Linked DNA regions of Homo sapiens: region 1 is linked to region 2. The links come from fine-mapping of genetic effects on gene expression. A gene starts in region 2. The other region holds a variant in brackets. All regions are shown on one strand. Distances are from middle to middle. Region 1 overlaps RNF43 (ring finger protein 43). Region 2 holds the start of RNF43 (ring finger protein 43).

What was found. PIP is the estimated chance that this variant, and not a neighbour inherited with it, causes the effect.
Region 1: its variant is fine-mapped to the expression of RNF43 in testis (GTEx, PIP 0.97).

The regions. Positions count from the first base shown.
Region 1 is chr17:58,370,001-58,378,000 of GRCh38, forward strand. It overlaps RNF43 (ring finger protein 43), which reads right to left. Exons shown (of 10, transcript NM_017763.6): 3 at 911-1,033. Among named protein-coding and RNA genes, the nearest start is that of SUPT4H1, 22 kb to the left of the region's middle. The variant T/C (reference allele first, on the strand shown) is at 3,163.
Region 2 is chr17:58,413,465-58,424,604 of GRCh38, forward strand. It overlaps RNF43 (ring finger protein 43), which reads right to left and starts at 4,070. Exons shown (of 10, transcript NM_017763.6): 1 at 3,553-4,070; 2 at 1,862-2,498. The coding sequence starts at 2,113. It overlaps HSF5 (heat shock transcription factor 5), which reads right to left. Exons shown (of 6, transcript NM_001080439.3): 6 at 6,703-8,966. The coding sequence ends at 8,896.

The DNA.
Region 1 (8,000 bases), 45 kb before region 2:
AAACCATGGCCTGCAGCAATGTGCTTTGCAGGTTTCTTCTAAAGAAGCTGAAAATCTGAGTTTTTTTTTTTTTTTTTTTTTTTTTTGAGACAAAGTCCCGCTCTGTCACCCAGGCTGGAGTGCAGTGGCACGATCTCGGCTCACTGCAAGCTCCACCTCCTGGGTTCACACCATTCTCCTGCCTCAGCCTCCTGAGTAGCTGGGATTACAGGCATGTGCCACCACGCCTGGCTAATTTTTTGTATTTTTAGTAGAGACGGGGTTTCACTGTGTTAGCCAGGATGGTCTCGATCTCCTGACCTCGTGATCCACCCACCTCGGCCTCCCAAAGTGCTGGGATTATAGGCGTGCGCCACCACGCCTAGTGAAAATCTCAGCTTTTATATAAACATTTTTAATTTTTAAATGTGGCAATTAATATACACATTGAAAAGTCGCTGTGAGGGTTAAACACAACATGTCTGCAAGCCAAACCCAGCTTATGGGCCACCAGTTTGCAACCTCAGGGGAAAAGTGTGAACTTTTTAAGGGTGGGGCAATGGTTTCTATTTCTGCTGTTCTTGCACAGTGCTCAGTGTATGTTTCTAAAAGATGGAAATCCCTTCAATTGACCCCTTCTTTGCTCTGGTGCAGAGCAGGGGAAGGGACTCAGGAACTCCCAAGTGATGGGAAGGAGGTGGGATGGGGAGCATGCTGGGATGAAGGTCAAAAAGTCCTGCTGGTGCTAGTCGGAGGAGAAAAAACAGAGGTGTGAATTTCCACTTCTCTCAGACCAGTCATGGGTTAGGGAAACCCAAGGGAATCAGGTACATCACTCTTAGGAAACATGGGGACAAGAGAGCACAGGGTCTTCTCACAGCCCAGAGCTGGGTGAAGCTCCGGGTGTGTGTAGGGCGAAGTGTGAGTCTACCTTGCTAGCCAGTGACAGGCAGGGGCGGGGGGCCCGTCGAGGACTCTCCAGCTTGACGATGCTGATGAATCCAGGCTCCAGATTGTCGTCATCACTGGCATTGCACAGGTACAGCGGGTGGGACTGCAGAGAGAGACAGACTTGGGTTAGGGAGGCTTTAGGCAGCAGGAGTGAGCTGTGAGAGCCATATACCTCTCCATTTTTCTAGGGAGGTACCAGGCAGGTCTCTTGGTGCTGTAAAAGAGTAGGCCTTATGATTGGATTGCCTCTTAGTAAGCTAGTGACCACTGTTTGTCACTTCAGGATGCTGGGGCCAAGGACACAGGTAGTGGAGGCAGATAGGAGGGAGAGGGTGTCCCAGAGGGGACCTAAATGAAGAGCTTGCTGCAAAGCAACTCTAACAACCTTCAACTCCAACAATCCTACTTCTCTAAACTGGCCAGACGCAGAGGGCTCCTCTCCTGGCCCCAGCCTCTCTACCTCCTGATCCTTCTACCTGCTCCCCAAGCCCCAGGCTAAGAGAATATCCATGTGTGCCTGCATCAGTGCTTTCAGAATGCCCATGGGCAGTGCTGGATGCTGCTGGTGCCTCCTGCCTCCTCGGGATGCCCCCAGGCAACTGTTGCCCTGTAGATTCCCATTTCTCAGGAGGCTGGGTCATCTCACTCGGTGCTACCTTGCTTCTCTCACTAGCCCCTTTTTTGCCTCTGCCCTGTACCCATCCTGGGATCAAGCATGGTGTTGACAGAGAGGTGAGACTATCTTGCAATGAGGCTTGGCTAAGACATAAGCTTTGACAGCTCACCCTGGTCCCAGGAATGATGCCGTGGAGGTGGAGCCAGCCCAGCCCATCTGCTCTAAGGGCAGATCCTGTCCAAGACCCTGTGCCTCTGAGCCCAGCTGGTGCTGAACAATGACTAAAGGAGAACGTGCTGACAGAAATCTGAGGCTCTCCTCATCAAAGGGGTGAGACCACCTTACTCTCTCTTCTCATTCACAGCGATTTGTACACCCATTTGAATCTAATTTTCCCTAAACAAAATGTCAGAGTGCAATGAGAACAAAGTATGACTTATTTGGCCCTGAATAATCCTATGGTCCAGGGACTCCTATATAGTAGAAACCCCACATATCCTGGCAAGAAAGAGATTTCTTATTAGAGAGCTGCCCACACTTCCCCCTCTACTACTGTTGATGTCTGAAGGACTTCCAGAAAGAACCATCAGAGGAACCACAGAGAATCTTGAATTTATAAAGATGTTTATGAAGATAATGTCAATGATGGATTTAAAAGCACACTTTCTGAAAGCTCTTTCAGGCTATTTCCTCTCACTGTGTCACCGCGGTCCCTTGAACATAGTAGGTTCTCAATAACTATCTACTACCTTGCTTTGAATCAAAATCTCTGGGCAGGGGGTGTTGAGATAGGAAGGAGTTCCATTCTTGCTCCCAGAGTTTAAGGCCTACTAGTCTGGTAGTGAGCAAGGTTTAGTGTGGGAGAAAGGTTATCATGTGCCCCTGCCCCAAGAAAAAGGCTGGGGCATGAGGGTGGAGTTGTTCTTACATCAGTGAAGCTGTAGCCCCTGTCTCAACAAGCTGCATTAGTCTCTCTATCTGTCCATGCATCCATTCATTTCTTTGTTCTGCCAGCACGGAAGGCCCCCTTGGTGTCAGGCTCTGTCCAATGCAGTGAGGAGCTAATGATGAGTAAGAGAGGCTCCTTGCCTTAAAGCAGCTCAAAAGACAAGCATGCAAACACATCGTGATGTTACAATGCAAGGGGCCTATGGGAGGGCACAAAGAGGGGCAGCTAACAATACATATGGGAAGCAGAGCAGTTTTCACAAGAGGTGACTGGAGAGCTACCTGGAAGGCTAACTAGGTATGTGTTCACCTCAGGGACCAATGAAAGGGAGCGGGGTTGGGGAGCCACATTCCTGGCAGAGGAAGCCACTGCACCAAGGAACAGAGGCCTAGCACGAGGCTGAGGTAGACTGTGGGCAGTGAGGTCTGGCACGAAAGGGAAGGCAGGACATAAGGCTGGAAGGATCTGCAAGAGTCAGGCCACAGAGCTGAGACCACAGATTTGCACTGGAGACCAATTTCTCTGAAGACTGTGGAGGAGACTCTGGTGTGGTGGGGAATCTGAAGGCAGCTGCTCCACCAGAGCAGAAGATGGAGGCCTTCCCTGAGGAAGGACAAATCGCAGCCACAGAAGGTTCTGCTCTGCTTGCTCCTCGACCCTCCCCACA[T/C]GGTCCAGCCTTCTCCTGATGACTCCAAGATGCCGCTCACTGACCAGAGGGTCGCCTGGGAGAGGAAAGTCACTTTGGAGAAGTTCCTACAGTGTGTCTGCAGATATTTAAACAGCACTCTTCCCCAGGTTTGAACAGGGAACCAGCATCTACAGCTCAGTGCTGCATTGTAGGATACCTCTGACAAGGTGGAAGGGAAAAAAAACCTGGTATGAGCCACCAAACTTGCCTGGTTCCGAATTAACAACTATGGAAGAAGGAATGGAAGGAAATTAAACATCAATAAAGGCCTCTTGTGTGCCAGAGCTTTTAGACATTATTTCACCATAAGGTAGGTGTTATAGCCATTTTTAAAAACAATTATTTAATTTTTATGTGCACATAGTAGGTGTATATATTTATGGGATACATGATATGTTTTGATATAGGCATGCAATGTGTAATAATCACATCATGGAGAATGGAATATCCATCTCCTCAAGCATTAATCCCTTGTATTACAAACAATTCAATTATACTCTTTTAGTTATTTTTAAATGTACAATAAAATTATTGTTGACTATAGTCACCCCATTGTACTATCAAATACTAGGCCTTATTCATTCATTTTAACTTTTTTTTTAAAACCCATTAACCATCTCCATCTCCCCACTACCCCTATCATAGCCACTTAAAGAAGAGAAGCTTGAGGCTGAGAGAAATCAAGGTCACACAAGATTTGAACTCAACTCTGCCTGACTCCATTGTCGGAGCCATGGAGCTCCAAATGAACCCTCCATCCAGCAACCCTCCATCCATCTCCATGCTAATGATAGTCAGGATGGGGACAGTACAGTTTATATTTATTGGGTAAATACTGTGGGCCAGTGATTGTTCTATGCACTTTTTCATATTAACTCTTTTCATCCTCATAACAACACTATCAGGTAGAGATTGTTATTGTTCCCATTTTAAAGATGAGGAAACTGAGGCACTAAAAGGTTAAATAACATGCCCAAGATTACACAGCTAGTAAGTGGTAGAGATTAGAAAAAAAAAGGAAAGTAGTAGTAGGATAAGGTTAAAAAAATATTTAAGAACAATTTACATTTTATTTTGAAAACATGATACCTTCCCCGAACTCATTTACTAAGAAAATTTATCTTACTAAAGCATAAGGACCCAAATACAAGTCCCTAAAATGTTGATGGTGACCCCCGGGATTCTTAGACCCTCCTCTCTTTTCACTCTTCTTTTTTTTTTTTTTTTGAGACAGAGTCTCGCTGTGTCACCCAGGCTGGAGTGCAGTGGTGCAATCTTGGCTTGCTGCAACCTCCACCTCCTGGGTTCAAGCAATTCTCCTGCCTCAGCCTCCCAAGTAGCTGGGACTACAGGCGCCCGCCACCATGTCTGGCTAATTTTTGTATTTTTAGTAGAGATGGGGTTTCACTATGTTGGCCAGGTTGGTCTTGAACTCCTGACCTCATGATCTGCCTGCCTCGGCCTCCTACAGTGCTGGGATTACAGGCATGAGCCACCGTGTCTGGCCCCCTCTTTTCACTCTTGATGACTTCTCTGGGTGACAGCAGCCAATCCCATGGCTACGGTGCCCACACAGAGGTCAGTGATTACATATGTACAGTTTGGTCTTCTCTTGAGCTCCAGACCCTTATGTCTAACCCTGGACGTTTCTACCTTAATAATCTTAAGTAGAACACCTCAAACTCAGCATGCTCAAGACTGAACTCATTCTATCCCCAAAACTGCTCCTCCAGTGTTTGCTGTCTCTGGGATTGGAACCATCATCCATCTATTACCCAAGCAAGATGCTGTCCTCCTAGCCTCCATCTCCTTCACCCCCACTCTAACCACCAATATCCAATCAATCGCCAAATTCTAACAATTCTACCTCCTAAATATTTGTCTTATTTTATTCTTTCTTCCATTCTCACTATCGCTATTGTAATACAGGCCACCATCACTGCCAACCCTATTTACCGAAATAACCTACTCCCTAGGGTCACTTCATCCCATTCGTTCTCTATATTGCAGCCAAAGTGGTCTAAAATGCTAACTTGAGCACGTTACTCTTCTACTTGCAGCTCTTACAAGGCTCCTCATAGCTCCTGAAATAAAGTCTGTACTCTTAAACATAGCTGAAAAGGCTCTGCCTGGTCTGGGCCCTGCCTCATGGCTTAACATTCCCATCCTATATCTCTTCCCACCTTGCGACCTATGTTCCAGAAATAATAACTTGTTTCATTTCCCTGAACACCTTTGGCACTTGCTGCTCTGTCCGGCATTTCCCTAATCATACATTACCCCACGGTATTGTAATTGTCGGCTTACTTCCCTCTCTTCTCCAGATGATGACTGAGTCTAGCCTGCCCCCCACTGCCTGTTACTTTGTGGGCACTCAATCAATATTTGTTGATTAAATATTGGAAGTCTATAACCAGATAATTGACGATAGTTAACTATGAAGACAAGACAGAGCACACCCAAATCCTATAATGGTTGCTCTGGGAGAGGAATTAGAGAGGGGGTAGTAGAGAGGGACTTTGGTGTTTTGCTTTGAATACTTTGATCAGAAGATAATACATGAGATTTGAGTTTTGTTTTTTGCTGTTGTAGAAGAATAAAAAAGAACGACAGTTATTTATATTTTGTTCCATGTCTTTTCCCTCCTTCCCTTCCAAGAAGATGGCTTCACCTTCTATTTCCTTGCCTTAGGGGCATTTGCCAAAAGCAAATGTTGTTTAAAGTTCTCCCTTCCTGGCTTTTGCAGAAAAACTGAACTCACTGAGGAAGTGTGAGTGTCCTGAAGGCAGAAGGGCCTGTGGTGAAGGGAGGGGTCAAAGTCTCAGAACCAGGAGGGCAGGAAGGAGGTGTCTGGAGCCAGTGTGAGGGGCCTGGAGCCATGCTGAGTAGTGGGAAGCTGCAGCCTGTGCCCCAGAAGCGGTGGGTCCCTGGAGAAGGACTGAGTACTAGACCCCAGGAGGCTGGCCCCTGGGAGAGATGATGTGCCTGCGTGGATTTCAAGGGAATGCCTGTGTTTGGACAAGAAACATATCTGTGGTGGCCAGCATGGATGAATATCAGAGGGGTCCCTTGGATATCTTGGTTTTCATAAAACTCTGGGACTTTTGTGCTACTCTATGAGGAGAAGTGCCCTTGAAAACAAATGTCTATGCAGCTAATGGGATAGGACCTTGGTGTTAGATTTGATAAAAAAAATAAATAAATAAAGTAACATGATCTTTCTAGTACAATTATATCTGTGGTATGACAATCATACTCATTATACTTTTGTATGGCTTGACTCTTTTACAATGAGAGCTTTTCAAATATTCTCAAATTAAAAACAAATAATAGCCATTTGAACTAGGACTCAGTTCAGCACCTAGCAAGAAAGACAGCATTGGCATTCCCTGGGTATAACACAGGGGCTGTCTTTGCCCTTCCTCCAAGGAATTTTCAGCCAGGAAGCGGGCTCTTGAGAAAACAGATGCAAATACATCTGTCTCCTTGGAATGCAAGGTCTCCTAATCATGAAGATGCAAACACGATTTCTACAGTGGGCCACCTGTCCCCTCAGTGACACCAGGGGAGGGTCAAGAGAAATGAGCTTGCCTGATTTGAGAAGGGTGTGGCTGTGGAGGGCTCATGGAAACTTGGTGAATTTGACTTCCTCAAAGGCCAGGAGTTAGGACACCACTGTCTCACAGGCTGCCATGAGGGGCAAATTAAGAGGCACTTGCTTTCAAGCACGAGTTGGGTCATTCTGACTCAGAATTCAGCTTTGCATACATATTTTATACCCCCTGTGTAAAGACATGTGAACTGTCCTTCGGTGGTGTGTGTTGTATTTCATATTCCTGAGTCTATTCTCCCTGTGTCCTCCTTAACTTATTTGTTCTGATTTTTTCCCCTCCCTCCCAAGACAGACCTAGAGTTCAGATTCTGACCCCATCATTTACCTGTGTGACCTTGGGCATGTTAATCTTTCTGAGCCTCATATTGCTCGTCTTTGGAATGGGAACAAGAATGCTTTGTGTAGACAGGAGATAATGGATATCAGTGCCTAGCAAAAAGCCTGACACTTAGTAAGTGCTCACTTAATGGCAGCTGTTTTTATTACTGCATCTATAATAAAGTCCCTTCTTATTCCTGGAAGGGACAAGGCCTTTTCTGAACCCCTCCCCCGTTCTTTGGTAATCAACAGTGCTTCTGAATGCCAGTGTTCTGCAAGGCGCATTCTGGGACAGCTCATTATCCACAGTCACTTCCCTCCTGTTCTCAGCCCTCCAAACCCCACTGAACAAGCTCTTCCAGTTCTCAGCCTGCCTCCTTCCCATGAAGGAAGCCATGTGATCTCATTACCTCCTCACAAAGGGCATTTCAGGGCTCAACTGGGCCTGGAACTTAATGCTGGTCTCCCCTTATCCATGGCATCTCCTCCTCTTTGGGTGTGTGCTTCTGCAAGCAATTCTTCACTGTCTCCTGTTTCCCAGGAACTCTCCTCCCCACCCACCCACCCACCCCCTCCTGCCCCCACCACCGACCTCTGCTGCAATTGTCTCTTAGTTCTCTGATTCCACGTACAGACCTTCAACCAGGCCTTGGACAGGTAACTTTACTGCTTGCTACAATTTTGCCTTTGTAATCAAGAACATTGGCCAGGCATCAAAGGCATCATTCTCCCCATTTCCTCTTTTCAGATTTTACAATCATCCTTTCCTGCACAACCTCCATTACCTGAACTTTTATCTTAGGTAGGAGGACACACCGGCATCATAAAGTAAAGCTCCTGCAGATATGGGGGTGGGAAAAAAACAGGTTGGCCTGAAGTTGCTTCT
Region 2 (11,140 bases):
AAAAATTGCCAATGACATAAAACTATCCACTGTAAAGGCTGAAAGTCTTTGCTAAGTTATGATGAAATTCCCTCTTCACAAAGTAAAAGCAATACTTAATGTATAATGATAGGATCAAAGTTAATAGTTTAAAAAACAAAATAGATTGGTAAGATTTGCCAGAGTGAGAAAAACGATAGAACAATAGAAGACATGATAAAGATTGATAAAATAATGAATGGCAAAGAGAATGCCAACTGGTGCTGTTTGTTTACTTTTTCCTTTATGAAAACACAAACTTTATGTAGAGCTTTATGATAATAAGATTAAAACTTAAAAGAATACATTATTTTATGGAACACATAATTAGCCCACTGAACATGCTATCACAGGTTATCAATAAGGCACGTATGGCTCTCAAAAACTTCAGTGATATCAAAATATGACTAGCAAAATTACTTACGGTCCTAAAATGGAGCACACAATTCATGCTTCAGGGTATTAACTAGGCAAGGCCAGGAAGGAAGTTTCCTTTCCAATTGCCATAGTATTCAAGATGATTTATGAGTTCAGCTTTTAAGTATTCCTAATTCCATTTTAGAATCCAAATTATCTTATTCAAAAAAATCTTATGCCATTTTTCCAGATATACTCTTCTTTCCTATTTTTCTAAATAGCAAAGCCTTCCATTTTCACCTAATTCTCCTTCACTTCATTTATCCCAGCTTCAAAATATTGCCTAAGAAGTGATAATGAATAACCACTAAACCATATATTAAAGAATACATGTTTAGGAATAAGTTCTATAATCTGTTAAATTTTCCTATCTTCTTTAAGTAGACAAAAATTAAAATTCATACAATAAATTGGTTCTGTTCATAGTCTGTTCATACCACAAAATTAAAATTTGAGTTTGGATGCTAAGATGGATCACACTTAAGAATATTTTAACCTGTGTCCAGTAGCTACAGCAAGAAGTGTTCTTTTACATGATAAATTTCAATCAATAAGCAACATCATTTTATGGAGTAAGACAATGGAATGCCCATTAAAAAGGTATAGCCCTCTAGGCTCTGTCTTTACTATGGGGAATGAGCAATTGGTCTATGAAATGCTGTGCCCCCAGTCATTTCATAAATTCACCACATAAAGAATAGGCCATGTATGAATGACTTACAGGCAAAATTCACAGCCTGAAAGCCTAAGAAACTATGTCTGAAAAACTTGGCGGATCAGTAAAAAACATGTTAAATTTAAATTCCTGAAAATGATAAAATTATGTGTGGACAAGGCCAAAGTGATCAGGAGGCAGGTTTACACCTTGTGTCCATTTTGTAATCCAGTCCTCTCCATTTTGGGGTTAGCAATAGGGTGCCACACGTGGTGTAAGGCCAGCCATAGCATTCAAGCTTGACTGAATTTTAAGTGACACAGTAATCAAATATGCTCCAAGGGCATTCCAGAATTTCAGGTGCTGCTGACCATTAAAATCAACCTTCTTAGTGCTTACTTCAATTTAAACAGGATGTAAAATACAATCCTCGCATCAATTAAATATAAGCTCATATATTTCATCTATCAAAAATTAGTGCCCAGAATATATCACTTGAAAAAAAGGTATTATTATGTCTATCTAAGTAGTTATGCAACACCAGTTTAAAATAAGCAGATAATCTTCTAAAATATAGGATTTATGTATTTCCTCCAGAGTATAAAATAATAATTTGCTAAATTTAGAATGCCAATAAGGCAGTATCTACTCTTTCTATGAAATAGAAAGCTAAGCAGTAGAAGCCCGTGTATGGTATTTCATTTGGGAGACAAAAGAAGAAAGACATATTTCAAACAGATGGAAAGTGAAATATAATAAAGTTATACTTGCCTGCATTAATTTTCCTTCTGCTGGAGTTATTTCAGCAACACCAGCAAACACACCTTCCAAAGTGAGATTCAGTTTTCCTGTGGGGTCCATTTTCAAGGGGATCACTCTGATAATAGCTTTCTGTTCTGCTGATCTTTCAGACTCCACCGCTGCTGCCAGTACCAGTCCTGTGCGTCCAAAGCCTGCCTGCAGGGTAGCCATCAGCAGCCAGGGCCAGAGGGCAGCCAGCTGCAGCTGGTGGCCACCACTCATGCTACCAGCTGCAGCAATGCACTTCAACCATACATACTGCTTCCACTAGCTAATACCAAATGCAGGTTCTCAGATCCAGACAAATGGAGGAAAAGAACATTTATGCTTCCGTTTCAGAAAGCCAAGTCGTAGTTTTGGCCCTTCCTTTCTCTAAAGTTTATTCCCAAAAACAGGTAGCATTCCTGATTGGGCAGAGAAGAGGATATTTTCAGCCCACATCTGCTGCAGGTATGTCATTTTCTCCCATCTTCACTGTGACTAGTAAAGATCTCACCACTTCTCTTTGGAATTTCCAACTTTGCTTGTGATTGAATGTCACTTCGTGAATTTGTATTATGTCAGATCACTTGGCATTGCTCTTCCATATGCATCAAGTTGCCAGGCACTAAACCCAATGTTCATGAACAAAACAAGGCAAAGTAAACAGCTAAGGCCATGCATCAAAGGTGAGCGTGAAGAACTCCAGCTCAGAAAAGGAAGGGATGGCCCTTTTTAAGCCATAATATGTGTTAATGGTAAATGACTAAATACCACAAGGAGATTTTTTTTTTAATGGAGGAGAAGAGGGAACAATAATAAAAATTTCAGGCCACACGTTGATGTCCAAAGATGCTACAATATGTATTTAGAAAAGTTTCCACATTAAACTGTATTTCAGTGTGGCCAGGTTTCTAGGCCCACTGCATTTACATACTTTTCATGAACTTAGACATACCATAATTTTTTGTGTTTTACCAAAATTTGCCTATAAATTAGGTGCTAATTTATGTATCTTCACACATTACAGGATAATCCTGAGCATCACAACCTTTTCCAACTTTCATAATTAGAGTATTTGAAAAGGTTAGCTTTCCAATTATTTTTCCCAGTTAAAATTCATATTTCCATCTCCATTTTCTTTTCTCTCTTAAGGATTCTTGATTTTATTCTCCAGCTCGGAAATGCCGAGCACTTTGATTTCCCATGAGATGCTTTTGGAAACTACTTTAATATCCAGATTTTATGATCTGTAATTTTCTAGGTTCATAAGAAAAACAAAGGACTATTCCTCACATGTATCCAAATTCCCTGAGGGGGTAGGGAATAAAAGGTAGGGGGAGCAGGGAGGCGATTAACCACAGGCTCTAGGTAGAATACCCTGAAAAAATACAAATAATCTTGAGTAGAATAGATCTGTGCTATTTCTAGGCACTATGAAAATTTGCGTCTTTGTACAAACACAGAATAAGATTTTTAAAATGTGCACCCTTAAGTAAATATAAATACACCTCACCCACAAAGCCCTCTGTGTTCCAAGGTCAAGTTTAAAAATATTATAAAGTCTTCAGAATAAGTGCTGAAAAGCCAAGCAATTGAACATGAACCTGTTATATGGATTCTTTTCTTTTGCTGAGGCAGAGGGAGGGGGGAAAAAGGAATTTCAAAAGAAATCTGCAAACCTGTTGCGCTGTCGGGCCCACTGGAATCCACGGGGGTGAAACAAATTCAATTATGCTTTTACAGATCCTGCTCAAAAAAGGTTTCAACTGCTTAACCAAGTACAGCTCATTCTTCCACCTTCTTACTCTGCAACCAAACCAAGTGCCCCATACTACAGGTAGGTGCCGAGAAATTCCGCAGCCTGAAAAAATAATCCATGCAGGTCAAAGGCAGAAATTTACTCCGGGATGAGAGATGCTGTCCCCTAGAACTAAATTAAACACTTACAGAAAATCCAAAATCATTTCTGAAACCTCCTTGCTAACAAAAGTTCTTTTTTTCTCCAAACAGCATATAAAATGATCAAGTCTTGAAAGAGAAAAGAAGCAAAGTAGCAAATACATCAACAATTCACTATCAGAAACACATAAAATCCCAGAGAGAGAGAAGGCAGTATCTCTGAATCATGGATGGACTTGGAAAGTTCGGAAGGATTCCGAGTGCTTCCTTTCAGAAAGACAATTCTGGATCAACTCCCTAGAGCAGGAAGCCTGTGGTTTGTAATTGGTGTTCTAGCTCTGACTCCCTCCCCTGGGACTGCAATCACGCTCTCTACCTGCTGACAAAGTGAGGGTGGAGCTGCTAGAGGCAACCACTCCCCACCCTGCCCCCCTCCTCCTGGTGCTCACACACAACACTTACTTAACCAGACCCGTTCTTTCGCTCTCCCCCCTCCCTCAGCTCCTCTACTCCCTCTACTGAGCCACAGCTAAACTGCATCCAATTCGATCCCGAGTACCTTTCTCTGGGTAAGCAAGCTACCACATGCAAATCAGGGCCACTCAAAGATATCTAAGCAGACTCTGCACCCAACAGAGCATAGATGATGGTATGAGGAAATAAACAGAAAAAAATAAAGGTAATCCGGAAGATAAAAGAATGGACACAAGGTTTTGCAAATATAAGTTCAAAAGGATTTCTGCTCATTCCAAGTTTGAGTGTCTATAAATGGCAGAAAGCCAGAATAAAGTGATCCTGTGTTTTAGTACTTACTGATTTATTGCTGCTTATGTCTGCTACCCTGGGAAGGGCTCTGTCCATTTTATGCTTAGCTTTTCTTCAGCTCTTACTAATTTAAATTCAGTAGCTCTGTCTAAACTGTGCCTATATGGAACTTTCAAATCAGGTTGATGTCAGATGTCTGGAATCCAACTGTTATTTTCTTTTCAATCTTTGGGAGGTGAAATAATACTATGGATCAGACCTATGCCTTCAATGTAAGACTCCAAATAAGTCCATGTCATAAATACAAGCCAAAGGGTAAAATATGATTAATGAGAAGAACATAGGCAAAAAGAAAATGAATTTCTGGCTAATTACCACATTCATGAACTATAATCCTTATTACTACCCTGCCATTAGAAATAATACAACAGTTTCTAATACATTTATAACATTTGAAGTTTCAAATTACCAGATTATATTTGACTGTGGTGAGACATTTTATTTCTGAACCGCTGCCATAAACTTTCAAAATTATACAAATGAACAACAATGTGGATATAGTTAAATCTAGTGAACTGTACACTTAAAAATGGTTATGATAGTAAATTTTATGTGTTTCTTACCTCATGTAAAAACGAATCTCTGATCATCTGTAAAATGCTGATGATAATAATTACGATAGGTCTGTTGTAAAGATTAAATGACATAATGCCTCTGAAAGCAAAAAGGATGAGTAGCCTATTGACCTTCAACATTGTTTCCCCTGTAGATAAGGTTTATGACAGTAGTTTCAGAATTTCAGATCTAATAACTAACCTAGATCAAAGACAAATTCGAAAATAAATTTTTTGTTTATTTTTGTTGTTTGAGACAGGGTCTTGTGTTACCCACGCTGGAGCACAGTTGTGCCATCATGGCTCACTGCAGCCTTGACCTTCATGGCCTCCCACCTCAGCCTCCAGAGTAGCTGGGATCACAGGTGCGTCCCACCACACCCTGCAAATTTTTTTTTTTTTTTTTTTGAGACGGAGTCCCGCTCTGTTGCCCAGGCTGGAGTGCAGTGGCGCTATCTCGGCTCACTGCAAGCTCCGCCTCCCGGTTCATGCCATTCTCCTGCCTCAGCCTCCCGAGTAGCTGGGATTACAGGCGCCCGCCACCACGCCCAGCTAATTTTTTGTATTTTTAGTAGAGACGGGGTTTCACCGTGTTAGCCAGGATGGTCTCCATCTCCTGACCTTGTGATCCACCCGCCTCGGTCTCCCAAAGTGCTGGGATTACAGGCGTGAGCCACTGCGCCTGGCCAACACCCTGCAAATTTAAAAAAAATTTTTGTTGGGCCAGGCGTGGTGACTCACGCCTATAATCCCAGCACTTTGGTTGACCAAGGTGGGTGGATCACGAGGTCGGGAATTTGAGACCAGCCTGACCAACATAGTTTAATTTAACATAGTTAAACTAAAAAATAACCTACAAATGGGCTTTGCCTCATCTATTCCTGCTTAAAACGTGCAAAGGAATGAAAAGACCTAGCCCTAGTAATTAATACACACACTTAATTGACAGAAAGAAGACAGTTACAAATGTGGTTGCCCTCTCTTGAGGAAACTCTGAGATTTGGAAATGATGATGATATGCATCATGAACCTGGAGACTTGGAGAAACTCAAGATCAAACCAAACAGCTCTATGTAGCTTAGTTCACTGTTTTAGATCACCAGAATTGCAAGAGCAATTATTCTTCAGCTTCAAAGTTTTGGAGTTACCCTCTAGGGTTGATATACTACTACATTTTCCTAGAGATGTCATAAAGATGCCATCACTATTGTAATGAAATGCCTAAGTCTCAATGACATCTACTAGCTAGTCTTATACATGAGATAGATCATCCTTCAGGATCTACTTTCACCTCTGGATTGATTAAATTTATCAAAGATCATTCATCCTTTTCCAAAAATGTAGGTTTCTGTAAAACATGTCTAAGAATTGTCCTTATCCCTAACGGCATTTAAAAAATTCCATTGCTATTCAAGTACAAATGAAAAAAAACTTTTAAAATTCAGATTATTTGAAAAATAAAGTAAATCTCATTTGAATTATACTATTAACTGTCATAATTATTGAATTTTCTATTAATCACCAAACAGTAAGAACAAGCAAGACAACAAGTCTAGTTGGAACACTCACTTTATTGTTGACTGATTGAAATTTATCAGTGCTTAAGGTGCTGAAATACTGAGGTACTAGTCAGGAACCTTGTTAGTTGACTAGTTGTGTCAGACCCTACTGGCTAATTCACAGGAAGACTTTATTATACCTCTTGCCATTTTGCCCAAGTCATTAATGACAGCTTTAGTTGATAGATACAAGGCGTGTAAGGATAGCAGGAGATCCAGCTCCTTGGTCTGCTGTATTCATATATAAAAATGTTTGGAAAGCTGATTAAGGCATTTCATTAATTAAGCCTTAAAACAACTGAAACCAAATCTATGCCAAGGTTCCTGCTTGACATGTGTTCCTCAAAAGATATTATCTCAACATCTATAAAGCTAAGAAAGCCATATTTAGGGGAAAATCTACACAGTATATTAGCTCTTCAACATGACAGAGAAAAAGCAAAGTTCCTTCATTTGGAAATTGGGTCTCCTCTTCACATACTCTGACAAAATATTATATAGTCTGGCCAAAAGATATAGGTGTCTTGATAATTTGCTCTTTTAAACCTTGCTAATAAAGATAAATAAATGCCCATCACATAGACATTAACTAGTCTAATCAGAGGGACCACACAGGTCGCTTTTCAGAACCTACTTTAATATCTAAACAGAGTCACTGCAGATCAATACAGAGCTCACCCTTTTCCAGAAAAGTAGATCTCTGTAATATTTCTAGGGTTTGACATCATTGGGAAGGCACAATGCAGTATAAGAAATGAACTGTTACATCCACAACGGCTAGCATAGTACTATGTCATATCACCAAGTGCCTTTTTAATTAGTTTCATATTCCTAGGCTTTCCTTTCGTTTCTGCAGTGCTTAATAGGAGAACTGAAACAGAATCCAATAAGAAAGTTTTGGTCAATTGAAAGACTTTAAATCAGAAAGTTTCTTGCTGTCACTGGATAAGCAAGTAAGGGATTAACCACAGAAACTGGACATCCAAGACATCCTTCTCTCCTAAAACACAGTCCCACAATCCTACTGCACAAATCTAGAATCCTGTAACAGGGATAAGAAAAAAATGTTACCATCTATCCCATTATCCAAAATTCTCTCAGAAGCTTAAACCAGATTGAAACCATTCTTTAAAAATCAGAGGCATAGCTTCTACTAAATGGCTGCTAATCAGTTTTTTCCCAAATTTGCACACAATACCTTATATAGATGAGAATTTATACTTATTGAATGTAAAAATCTAAAATAAGAAAATAGTATATTAAATCTCTTAATGTTTTTGTTCACACATTGTACATTTTCCTTTCAAAATAAAAATACTACACATGCATCCTTTATCCTTCTATCCTGCAATAATAAAAATATAAAACTTTAAAACCTTTAAATCTATCAGCATTTATAAATACAATTATATTAAACAAGTTAAATACTTTCTTTAAAGACATTTAAATAAGTGATATATTAATAAAATCTTTTTACCATTTATGATAATGTATCATTAAAATTAAAGAAAGATATGAAAATAGAAGAATGCTTCCATTAATATAAAAGAATCAGGGGCTGTTAAGTGTGATAGATGGTCCAAGTCCGGATGCCTTGCTCTTAAAACAGAATGCTGGGTTAGGAAGTAAGAGAATTTCCTGGTTAATCACTTAGAAAATTAGCTCTTCTCCAGAGTTTCTTCCCTGGAATTCCTGATGCATTTAGACCTGTGATGCTGGTGACCTCACATGCCTTTGTTTCTCACACAATCTCCTCTAAAAGGATCACACTGTGACTTGAATCAGAGAGACTGAATTCCCCACTAAAGTTGTGCTGACTACAGTTTGAGTGGCAAGACAACAAATCAGCACACACACAGATTATTCTTAGTACCATAGATGGAGCAGTTTTTAGATGCTCCTTGACTATAACAGAAGGTCAGAACTTTTCATTTAAAAGGGATCTGGGCAGCCAAAAAACGTGGCTGCTAGATGTTCAGTAGTTTGTCAAGGCAGATAATCTGAACTGAACCACTGTAGTACATACAAATTCCCAATTCTCAATTAACAAAATTCTCAATTAACGAAACAAAAAATACTTTTTTTTCCTTAACAGAACTGAAAAAATCCCAACAGTTTGTCATGTGCAAGGCTAGTCTGCCTCCAGCTACAGCTAGTGCACAATGTCACATTTGTCATCCATTCCTCACTCTTTTAATTCTTCCTCCTTTGGAAAGCGCTCCTGCTTGCAGGCCACGTCCACCAGCAGATGAAGATCTAGAAAGAAAGGATAGTTTACTCCCTCTTAGCCTCTCTGTAGAGTTCTATAGACAAGTTTTCAGACAAGCAGAACAAGTTGTCTATGTCTCACCTGTAGAACTGGCTCTAAAATTGTATAGTCCCATCAGATTCTCAATTTCGGGATATTCCTGTAACTCTAAAGCACACTGATGCAGCCCAGTTGTAACCCAAAGAGACCAACAAATTTTAGTGTCCCTCCTTTTCAGTAGTATAGCCAAGACTCTTTTCACCTCAGTTGCCTTTTTTTTTTTTTTTTTTGAGACGGAGTTTTGCTCTTATCGTCCAGGCTGGAGTACGGCGGCACAATCTCGGCTCGCTGCAACCTCTGCCTCCTGGGTTCAACTGATTATCCTGCCTCAGCCTCCCAAGTAGCTAGGATTACAGGCATGCACCACCACGCACGGCTAATTTTTATATTTTTAGTGGAGACGGGGTTTCAGCATGTTGGCCAGGCTGGTCTCGAACTCCTAACCTCAAGTGATCCACACACCTTGGCCTCCCAAAGTGCTGGGATGACAGGCGTGAGCCACGGTGCCTGGCCTTCAATTGCCTTTTATTGTAAGTGAAAAAGTAAGGAAAAGTGTCAAAGGGATCAAAGTGAATATACACATACAAATAAAAATTCATTTCCTTCATGCTGTAAGAGTAGGTGGGTGGGTTGTGGGAACATGAAAAGGCAATGCCTTCAGAAAAAACAATGTTAAAATAAGTAATCACCATTTTTCCAAAGTTGATTGACTCTATAAAATTCCCACTTATTGACTAACACAGCTGAATTCTTGTAAAAACACCTAGCTGAACTGTCCATAAAAAAGAAAGCATGTCCTCACACAGTGGTTCATTAAGAATGAAAGAAGTAAAAATGCAAATTAGGTACTAGGTTCTGTAATACAAAAAAGCTAAGACCATGTGTAGAAGTTGAGCTAAAACGTCTATAGAGGAACACAGGCAGCAATAAAAGGATCTTAAAGTGGCTTCTAGCTTCAAGCTAATGTGCTTACAACTTCTAGAGCAACATGACCAGGGAGCTTTTTTTTTTTTTTTTTTTTTTGAGACAGAGTCTCACACTGTCACCCGCGCTGGAGTGCAATCTCAGCTCATAGCAAACTCCGCCTCCCGGGTTCATGCGATTCTCCTGCCTCAGCCTCCCAAGTAGCTGGGATTACAGGCGCACACCACCATACCTGGCTAATTTTTTATATATTTAGTAGAGATGGGGTTTCACTATGTTGGCCAGACTGGTCTCAAACTCCTGACCTCGTGATCTGCCCGCCTCAGCCTCCCAAAGTGCTAGGATTACAGGCGTGAGCCACTGCGCCCGGCCCAGGGAGCATTTTTAGGTTGGTTTTGAAGTTTACAACTTTGCTTTAGCATTTGTGAGTTAAAGTATACAGCACAAACCCTTTATTTCATTCTCAACATACAAAGACTTTTGTTGCTACATTTTTGGAACACAGCCTCTACAGGATTGATCCACAGCCCGAGCAGGATAGCTGATTCAAATAAAATGGAATTCTACTACCACTTGGTAGAAAATCTAGAAAGCATTTGAAATAGTACCTAATTTTTGTCATATTTTGTAAAAGACAGACTAGTCACCAGGGATAGGTGCTTACTCATCTGGTGAACTACAACCTAGCCATATAGAACAAGTAATTTATCCACATAAGTATTTTGTGGAAGGAGAGTTTATCAGTTTATCACTTAAAATGAGTTTCTCATACTCCCATGATCACAGCAGTATAATCAGCAGTATTATTCACAATAGGCAAAAGGGAGAAGAAATCCTAGTATCCATCAACAGATGAATGGATAAACAAAATGTGGTATACACATATAACGGAATGTTATTTAGCCTTAAAAAGGAATAAAGCGGGACCAGGAGTGGTGACTCATGCCTGTAATCCTAGCAGTTTGGGAGGCCGAGGCAGGCAGATCACAAGGTCAGGAGATCAAGACCATCCTGGCTAATATGGTGAAACCCCATCTCTACTAAAAATACAAAAAATTAGTTGGGCATGGTGGCAGGCGCCTGTAGTCCCAGCCACCAGGGAGGCTGAGGCAGGAGAATTGTTTGAACCCGGGAGATGGAGGTTGCAGTGAGCCAAGATGGAGCCACTGCACTCCGGCCTGGGCGACAGAGTGAGACT